Homo sapiens: one gene and its partner. The protein of the gene in region 1 interacts with the protein of each later gene in a pairwise test. Each region holds a gene or a part of one and is shown on either strand. Other genes may lie near its edges. The genes, in order: SLC20A1 and MAPK6.

Region 1 (3,821 bases):
ATTTTGAGACAATTCATATTTAGCACAAAAGCAGTTATAGCACAAGTAACACTTCCCTCCTCTGGCTCCCAAATAAAAAGACTCTTGTCAGTCTTCTGTTAACACTGTAATCATTCTTCAGGGGAGCAGGAATACCTAAGATGGTCCCAAACATTGACACAAATTTTAATCTCAAACAGCTTCACATTCTGAGGATGACATATCTGAAGATTGCCATGATGGCAGCACTGATAACTCCAGAAATGGGGACTGTGACAAACCAGGCCATAAAAATGTTACGAAAGAGACGCCAGTCAACAGCCTTCTTGGACCGGAGCCAGCCAACAGACACAACAGAGCCCACCTAGAAGAGAAGCAGACCAAGGAAACAGGTTATTGAAGTGCCAGTGGTATTCTGGCAAACAGACACCTGAGACTGTTTGGACAAGGAGCCCCAGACCCCTGGACAAGACAAAGTCCAAGAAAGCTGGTTTACAACAGGTTAAGCTGGGAAAATGAAGGCAATTTGAAAATCCAATCATAATCTATACTAACGGTAGTAAAAGGACACAAGAACTATTTCTTTTCCCCTTCTCAGCTACTGCTAAAATTTAATGAATATATACTGCTTTTATTTATTTATTTTTTGAGACGGAGTCTCGCACTGTCGCCCAGGCTGGAGTACAGTGGCGCAATCTTGGCTCACTGCAACCTCCACCTCCTGGTTTCATGTGATTCTCCTGCCTCAGCCTCCCAAGTGCTGGGATTACAGGCACCCACCACCACGCCTAGCTAATTTTTTGTATTTTTAGTAGAGATGGGGTTTCACTATGTTGGCCAGGCTGGTCTCAAACTCCTGACCTTGTGATCCACCTGCCTTGGCCTCCCAAAGTGCTGGGATTACAGGCATGAGCCACTGCACCTGGCCTATACACTGCTTTTAATAACAAATTGCATTGTAAGTCTTCCTAAGATTATTTACAGAGTGGCTGATATTAAACCTAATAAACAATTGTCTGGAGACACATCCGGGTAGCAAACAGATGACTCAGCAGGATCCATGATGGACCAGCTTAAATGCTCTTAAGGAAACCAGTTTCTTCCTTCTCCTATAATTATTAGATTGTCATCAAACAACCTTAAGATTTGTTTTGTTTCTCAGTATTTCAATCCTGAGAGGCCCTGAAATATGCCTTCTGTAAATAAACTGCTTTGCCAACATTTTGGCAAGCCTCACAGACTTGTTAGAACCAGGCCTTCAGCCACCACAAATGGCAGCAGAAACCCACCTGGCCAGAATTAAAGCACCTGCCAGTTTCTAAGCATACACCTACCCTGCTCTGAATGGCTTCCCCAAAGGCAAAGAACATAATGCTGTCGGCCGGGCGCGGTGGCTCACGCATGTAATCCTAGCACTTTGGGAGGCCGAGCCAGGTGGATCACCTGAGGTTAGGAGTTCATGACCAGCTTGGCCAACATGGTGAAATCCTGTGTCTACTAAAAATACAAAAATTAGCCAGGCATGGTGGCGGGTGCCTATAATCCCAGCTACTTGAGAGGCTGAAGCACAAGAATCACTTGAGCCCAGGAGGCGGAGGTTGCAATGAGCCGAGATTGTGCCACTGAACTCCAGCCCAGGTGACACAGCAAGACTCCAACTCATACATAAATAAATAAAACATAATGGTGCCAAGTAGAAATGACTCTTGAGATTAAAAAAAAAATTATTATAAAGAGACTACAATGAGGGAGGATAAAGTAACAAAGGAAGAGGTTAGTAGCCAGAAACTACAGTAAGCTGTATATAAAACAATGTTTCTATTATTTGGGGAGAATATCTATTTAATTGCTTAAATAAGAATAAACACAAGAAATAACTTATGAACTCTTCAAGACTCCAACTGCACAAAACTTTCTAAATCAAAGTATCAGAGAAGTAAAACTAAAAACCCTACATATTAGAAGAACCATTTGAAAGACACACATTGGCATTACACTTACTTTACAATGTGTTGTACTGATGGGAAGGCCAATATTTGATGCAATCACCACAGTGAGGGCAGATGCCAGTTCAATACTGAAGCCACTACAGACACAAAAGGATTCTTGTCAGGAAGTGAGTTTGACTTTTTTGAGAAGCTAACACTACACCTCAAGTTAACACAGTCCTGCTTTGTTCTACTCAGTCACAAAACCTCCACTGACATCTTTATTTGCTATAACCCCTAAGATCTACTTTATTTAAATCAGGCCACAGATGCCCAGTTTCCTTATTCAAAGGCTTCCAGTTTTACGTTTTTCTGGAATCCCACTATTAAATAAAATTTGCACTTTTATTTTGAAGAGTTTGGTAAACATTGAGTCTTAGCTCCCAAGACAAATAAAAGGCAAGTATACATAACTATCCGCTCTTAGCATACACAGCTTTCTCAGAAAAGTCATTTTCTTCAGAGACCACCAGAGCTAAATGGGTAAAATGTCTGACCAAAATGTTTAAGGGCCAGACAAGTAAAATCTAAAAAGAACAATGACAATAAGAACATCATGAACTTATACAAACTTGGTTACTTTAGAGATTTGTGTTAGCACTCGACAGTGTTATATCTCTGAAAAAAATGAGTACTGACATTTGTAGAACCTGCTCCACCTACTTACCTAGAGGGTGTGATCGGTGTCAGATCCTTCCCCATGGTCTGGATAACTCTTCTTCCCCAAACCCACAGACCAACACAGATACCAACACCACCATAGAGTAGAAGCCATATTGGTGTTGCCACTTTTGAAGAAACATCTCCTGTGTCATAAACCAAATATAAAGCAACCAGAGGCCCAATGGCATTGCTGGAAGAAACAAAGAGGGCAGAAGTGACTTTTCAGGCAGAACTAGATCTTGGCAAGACCCAATCTGCTGAATGATCTACCAGGTTGTCTAAAGTACAGCTTTCAAGCTCATCTGGCAAAAGGGCCTTTCTTTCTAAAGACATAAATGGAACCCCAACATACACAACAGAAAAATGAACACAGCTCTGATGGAGGGAATGCCAGGCAAATGGTGGCCTCTTTCCTCCTATAGGCAGCTTAAAGCAACTCTCAGGTTCCAATAAACAGTTTACAAACCAAACTACAAAATCATTCTATATGAAAAACTTTTAAGTTTTTCATCTTACATCTTACATCCCACAATTCACTACCAAAGAACTGAATCTCATCTTGATGGACAAAAGCCTTCTCTGTGAAGAGTATCTGTTTATATTTATCATCTACAAAAATAAACATTCTTTGTAATTCCTCTGAAGAATAAAACTGTACTGTCTTATTATGTCAATAACTGCTATTACCTCATCCTATTTGTATTATTTGGGGTCCTGTAAATGCTAGGAGTACCACTACCACAAGCACAGGCCTGTGACAAGGATAAATGGTTTAAAAATAGGGTTAGCAACACTAAGATCAATGTCAACTGACCTTACGTCATTGCCACCATGGGCGAATGACCCAAAGCAGGCTGTAAGGATCTGCAGGAACTGGAAGAGGAGAGAGACTTCAGGCTTATCCTGGTCATACCATTCTTCTAGAGAGCCATTACTTCCTTTTCTGTCACCTAGACCCATCTCTGCCTTGACACTCATGTCTATCTCAGATGCTGAGTGAAGGTCAGACACAGCATTGCAGTAACTGGTGTAACTGTCCATTCGAATTCGCTTCTTGGAGTCTGCATTAGGCCATGTCAGCTTCTCCATTTCTTCGCCCTTCTGTTCACCTTCTTTGGCACGGAATGAATCCAGAGGCATGCCACATATTGCCATGGTATAGGAAGTATAGCTATTATTGCGCCTTAAGGG
Region 2 (3,821 bases), on another chromosome or scaffold:
GAAGAACTGGATTTGTGGTTAACCAGAGTCCTAAGATGTGCAAGGTCAGTGTGTGAACTATGCTGGAGTGTGATGTGAAGCAGAGATCAAGAAATTAGTACAACAGAGATGTTTTACTGTTGTACTTCCCATCAGTGAAGGATGGGAAAGGGCTTTTATTACATACCAGACACTATGATTACATCTCATTTTTGTACCTTATGAAATATCTATGTCTACTTTATGCATGAAGAAACTGATGTTCATCAAGTTTTAGTAGCCTATCCAGCACTACAGTGCTAGTAATTGAGTTAAGCCAGTGACTTGCAGAGCTAGGATTAAAACCTATATATTAGGCCGGGATTACAGGCGTGAGCCACCACACTCAGCCAGAAAATCGTTTTTAAGTTGTAAATCAGGTAAGTTTTATTTCTGACAAATTAACTTTTTAATTGTGTAGTCCATTTTTCCCTTTTATAAGATGGGGACCTATTAGTACAATTAAGATGCTCATTTCCTGTTGTGTAGTATGTAGTGCTAAGGTAATCACTTAGCTAGTCATTGAAATAAATGAGATCAACATTTACTGTTTTTCTAAAGGTAAGCAATTCTTTTCTGAAAAACTTTTACCTTTTCCTCTGCAGCACTGGATTTCCTGGAACAAATTTTGACATTTAGCCCCATGGATCGGTTAACAGCAGAAGAAGCACTCTCCCATCCTTACATGAGCATATATTCTTTTCCAATGGATGAGCCAATTTCAAGCCATCCTTTTCATATTGAAGATGAAGTTGATGATATTTTGCTTATGGATGAAACTCACAGTCACATTTATAACTGGGAAAGGTAAATTGATCCTAAATTAGAAAAATAATATTTACTGAACTTTCAGTGGACCATATGTAGTGAGTTTTTTTAAAATTATGTATAAGACATTGTAGAAGTCTTAAAAATTTAGTAATGTAAAGATACAAAAATTAGTCAGGTGTGGTGGCAGGCGCCTGTAGTCCTAGCTACTTGGAGGCTGAGGCAGGAAAATCACTTGAACCCAAGTGGCCGAGGCTGCCGAGATTATGCCACTGCATTCCAGTCTGGGCAATAGAGCAAGACTCCATCTCAAAGAAAAATTTAGTAATGGTCCTTAATATTTATATCTATAAATAGCCGTTAATTAAAACATTTAATAAAGTAATTACTGGTTAGATGATATATGGGAAAAGTTAAATGCTACTTTGAAACATTTTCAAAGTCATTAAGGCATATTTATAAAGTCCTTTAACTGTGATTTTATGAATGTCAAAAATTTAAGATGTTAGATGACAAGACTCAGTCATATCCAATAAAGTATCTCCAGTGTCTCAGTGGTAGTTATATCTTAACATAAAAAGTATTTGATTCATATTAGATGCAGGATTTTTTTTTTTTTTTTTTGAGATGGAATCTCACTCTGTCACCCAGGCTAGAGTGCAGGCTGGAGTGCAGTGATGCAAGCTCAGCTCACTGTCCTGCCTCAGCCTCCCGAGTAGCTGGGATTACAGGTACCCAGCTAATTTTTAGTAGAGGTGGGATTTTATGTTGGCCAGGCTGGTCTCGAACTCCTGACCTCAGGTGATCTGCCTGCCTTGGCCTCCCACAGTGCTGAAATTATAGGCGTGAACCACCGTACTCAGCCAGTATTTGAATCTGTTTTCCTAATGACACAATTAATTTGGGGACACTTAACATAGGTTCAGTAAAAGAGACTTTTTTAGGTCTAAACATTAGTGTATAATGTTATCCATATTTTGATGTTTCATAAAGTGAAATAATTGGATTTCTAGGAAAGTTTGGCTGGGCGCGGTGGCTCATGCCTGTAATCCCAGCACTTTGCGAGGCTGAGGCAGGCCAATTACCTGTGGTCAGGAGTTCGAGACCAGCCTGGCTAACGTGGTGAAACCCGGTCTCTACTAAAAATACAAACATAAGCCAGGCTTGATGGCGGGCTCTTGTAGTCCCAGCTACTCAGGAGGCTGAGGCAGGAGAATCACTTGAACCTGGGAGGCAGCAGTTGCAGTGAGCCGAGATTGCACCACTGCACTCCAGCCTGGGCGACAGAGCAAGACTCCGTTTCAAATAAATAAATAAATACATTTCTGGGGAAGTTTAGATATAATTCTGCTTCAGAGTAGGATGGTAGCTTATAGAGTCATCAGGTGATTTTGATGCTTCAGAGTAGGATGGTAGCTTATAGAGTCATCAGGTGATTTTGATGTATGGCCAAGTTTGGGAACCACTAATGCCAATCTTTTTAATCTTAAGATTTTAAGAAGAAATTTTTTTCCCCCTCCTCAAATGTTGATGTATTGGTATGGTATGTTTACACAAATCTGCAAACTACTTTTTTTCTCCATGTGTCCATTTCTACCCCCTAAATAATGGTTCTTTTCTTTTTTGAGACGGAGTCTCACTCTGTTGCCAGGCTGGAGTGCAATGGTGCCCATCTCTCTGCTCACTGCAACCTCCTGAGTTCAAGCAGTTCTCCTGCCTCAGCCTCCCTACTAGCTGGGACTATAGGCACCCGCCACCATGTTCAGCTAATTTTTGTATTTTTAGTAGTGGGGGTTTCACCATGTTGGCCAGGCTGGTTTCAAACTCCTGACCTCAAGTGATCCATCCACCTTGGCCTTCTTGAAGTGCTAGCATTGCAGGCCTGAGCCACTGCACCTGACCTGCATTTTCTATTTTACCTAGCTAAGTTATCTAATCTCTTTTCTTTTCCCTCAATGATTATACATGTCAGTAATAGGATAGCGCATTCAGCAGCACGTATACACAGGGAGATTTTTGCTATTCATGGTGATGAGTTTTCCAGCAAACCTCCTCCTCTTCTAGTTGCCCTTACTGTAGAGTAAACATTTAGCAAACCTCCTCCTCTTCTAGTTGCCCTTACTGTAGAGTAAACATTTGTAAGGTACCTGATTGAGATTTGAGATCTGCATTTTGTGGCTATGAAGTCTTTTGTTTGCATGGAACTGGTGGACAAAAAACAAATTGGAAATGAAGTTACATACTGCATTGGCAATTACCAAATATATTAACAGAGCTTTCCTATCAAGACTAAGTTCTGGTAGGGCAAGGCAGGCATATTTACTCTCCTATAATTATCCCCTCATAGACCTAGCACAGTGCTGTCACATAGAAGGTACTCGGTGAATTTGAAAATGAAATCATATACGTAGAATAACGCTAGTGTATTGATTTTTTTCAGGTATCATGATTGTCAGTTTTCAGAGCATGATTGGCCTGTACATAACAACTTTGATATTGATGAAGTTCAGCTTGATCCAAGAGCTCTGTCCGATGTCACTGATGAAGAAGAAGTACAAGTTGATCCCCGAAAATATTTGGATGGAGATCGGGAAAAGTATCTGGAGGATCCTGCTTTTGATACCAATTACTCTACTGAGCCTTGTTGGCAATACTCAGATCATCATGAAAACAAATATTGTGATCTGGAGTGTAGCCATACTTGTAACTACAAAACGAGGTCATCATCATATTTAGATAACTTAGTTTGGAGAGAGAGTGAAGTTAACCATTACTATGAACCCAAGCTTATTATAGATCTTTCCAATTGGAAAGAACAAAGCAAAGAAAAATCTGATAAGAAAGGCAAATCAAAATGTGAAAGGAATGGATTGGTTAAAGCCCAGATAGCGCTAGAGGAAGCATCACAGCAACTGGCTGGAAAAGAAAGGGAAAAGAATCAGGGATTTGATTTTGATTCCTTTATTGCAGGAACTATTCAGCTTAGTTCCCAGCATGAGCCTACTGATGTTGTTGATAAATTAAATGACTTGAAT

What was found.
Region 2: the proteins of SLC20A1 (region 1) and MAPK6 interact in a two-hybrid assay, tested with the Homo sapiens proteins (one large-scale study listed by BioGRID and IntAct).

The regions. Positions count from the first base shown.
Region 1 is NC_000002.12:112,659,386-112,663,206, reverse strand, and holds part of SLC20A1 (sodium-dependent phosphate transporter 1), read right to left. Parts: coding exon 3,445-3,821; intron 2,821-3,444; coding exon 2,635-2,820; intron 2,066-2,634; coding exon 1,981-2,065; intron 344-1,980; coding exon 182-343; 3' UTR 1-181. UniProt on the Homo sapiens protein: Sodium-phosphate symporter which preferentially transports the monovalent form of phosphate with a stoichiometry of two sodium ions per phosphate ion. May play a role in extracellular matrix and cartilage calcification as well as in vascular calcification.
Region 2 is NC_000015.10:52,060,676-52,064,496, forward strand, and holds part of MAPK6 (mitogen-activated protein kinase 6), read left to right. Parts: intron 1-623; coding exon 624-825; intron 826-3,226; coding exon 3,227-3,821. UniProt on the Homo sapiens protein: Atypical MAPK protein. Phosphorylates microtubule-associated protein 2 (MAP2) and MAPKAPK5.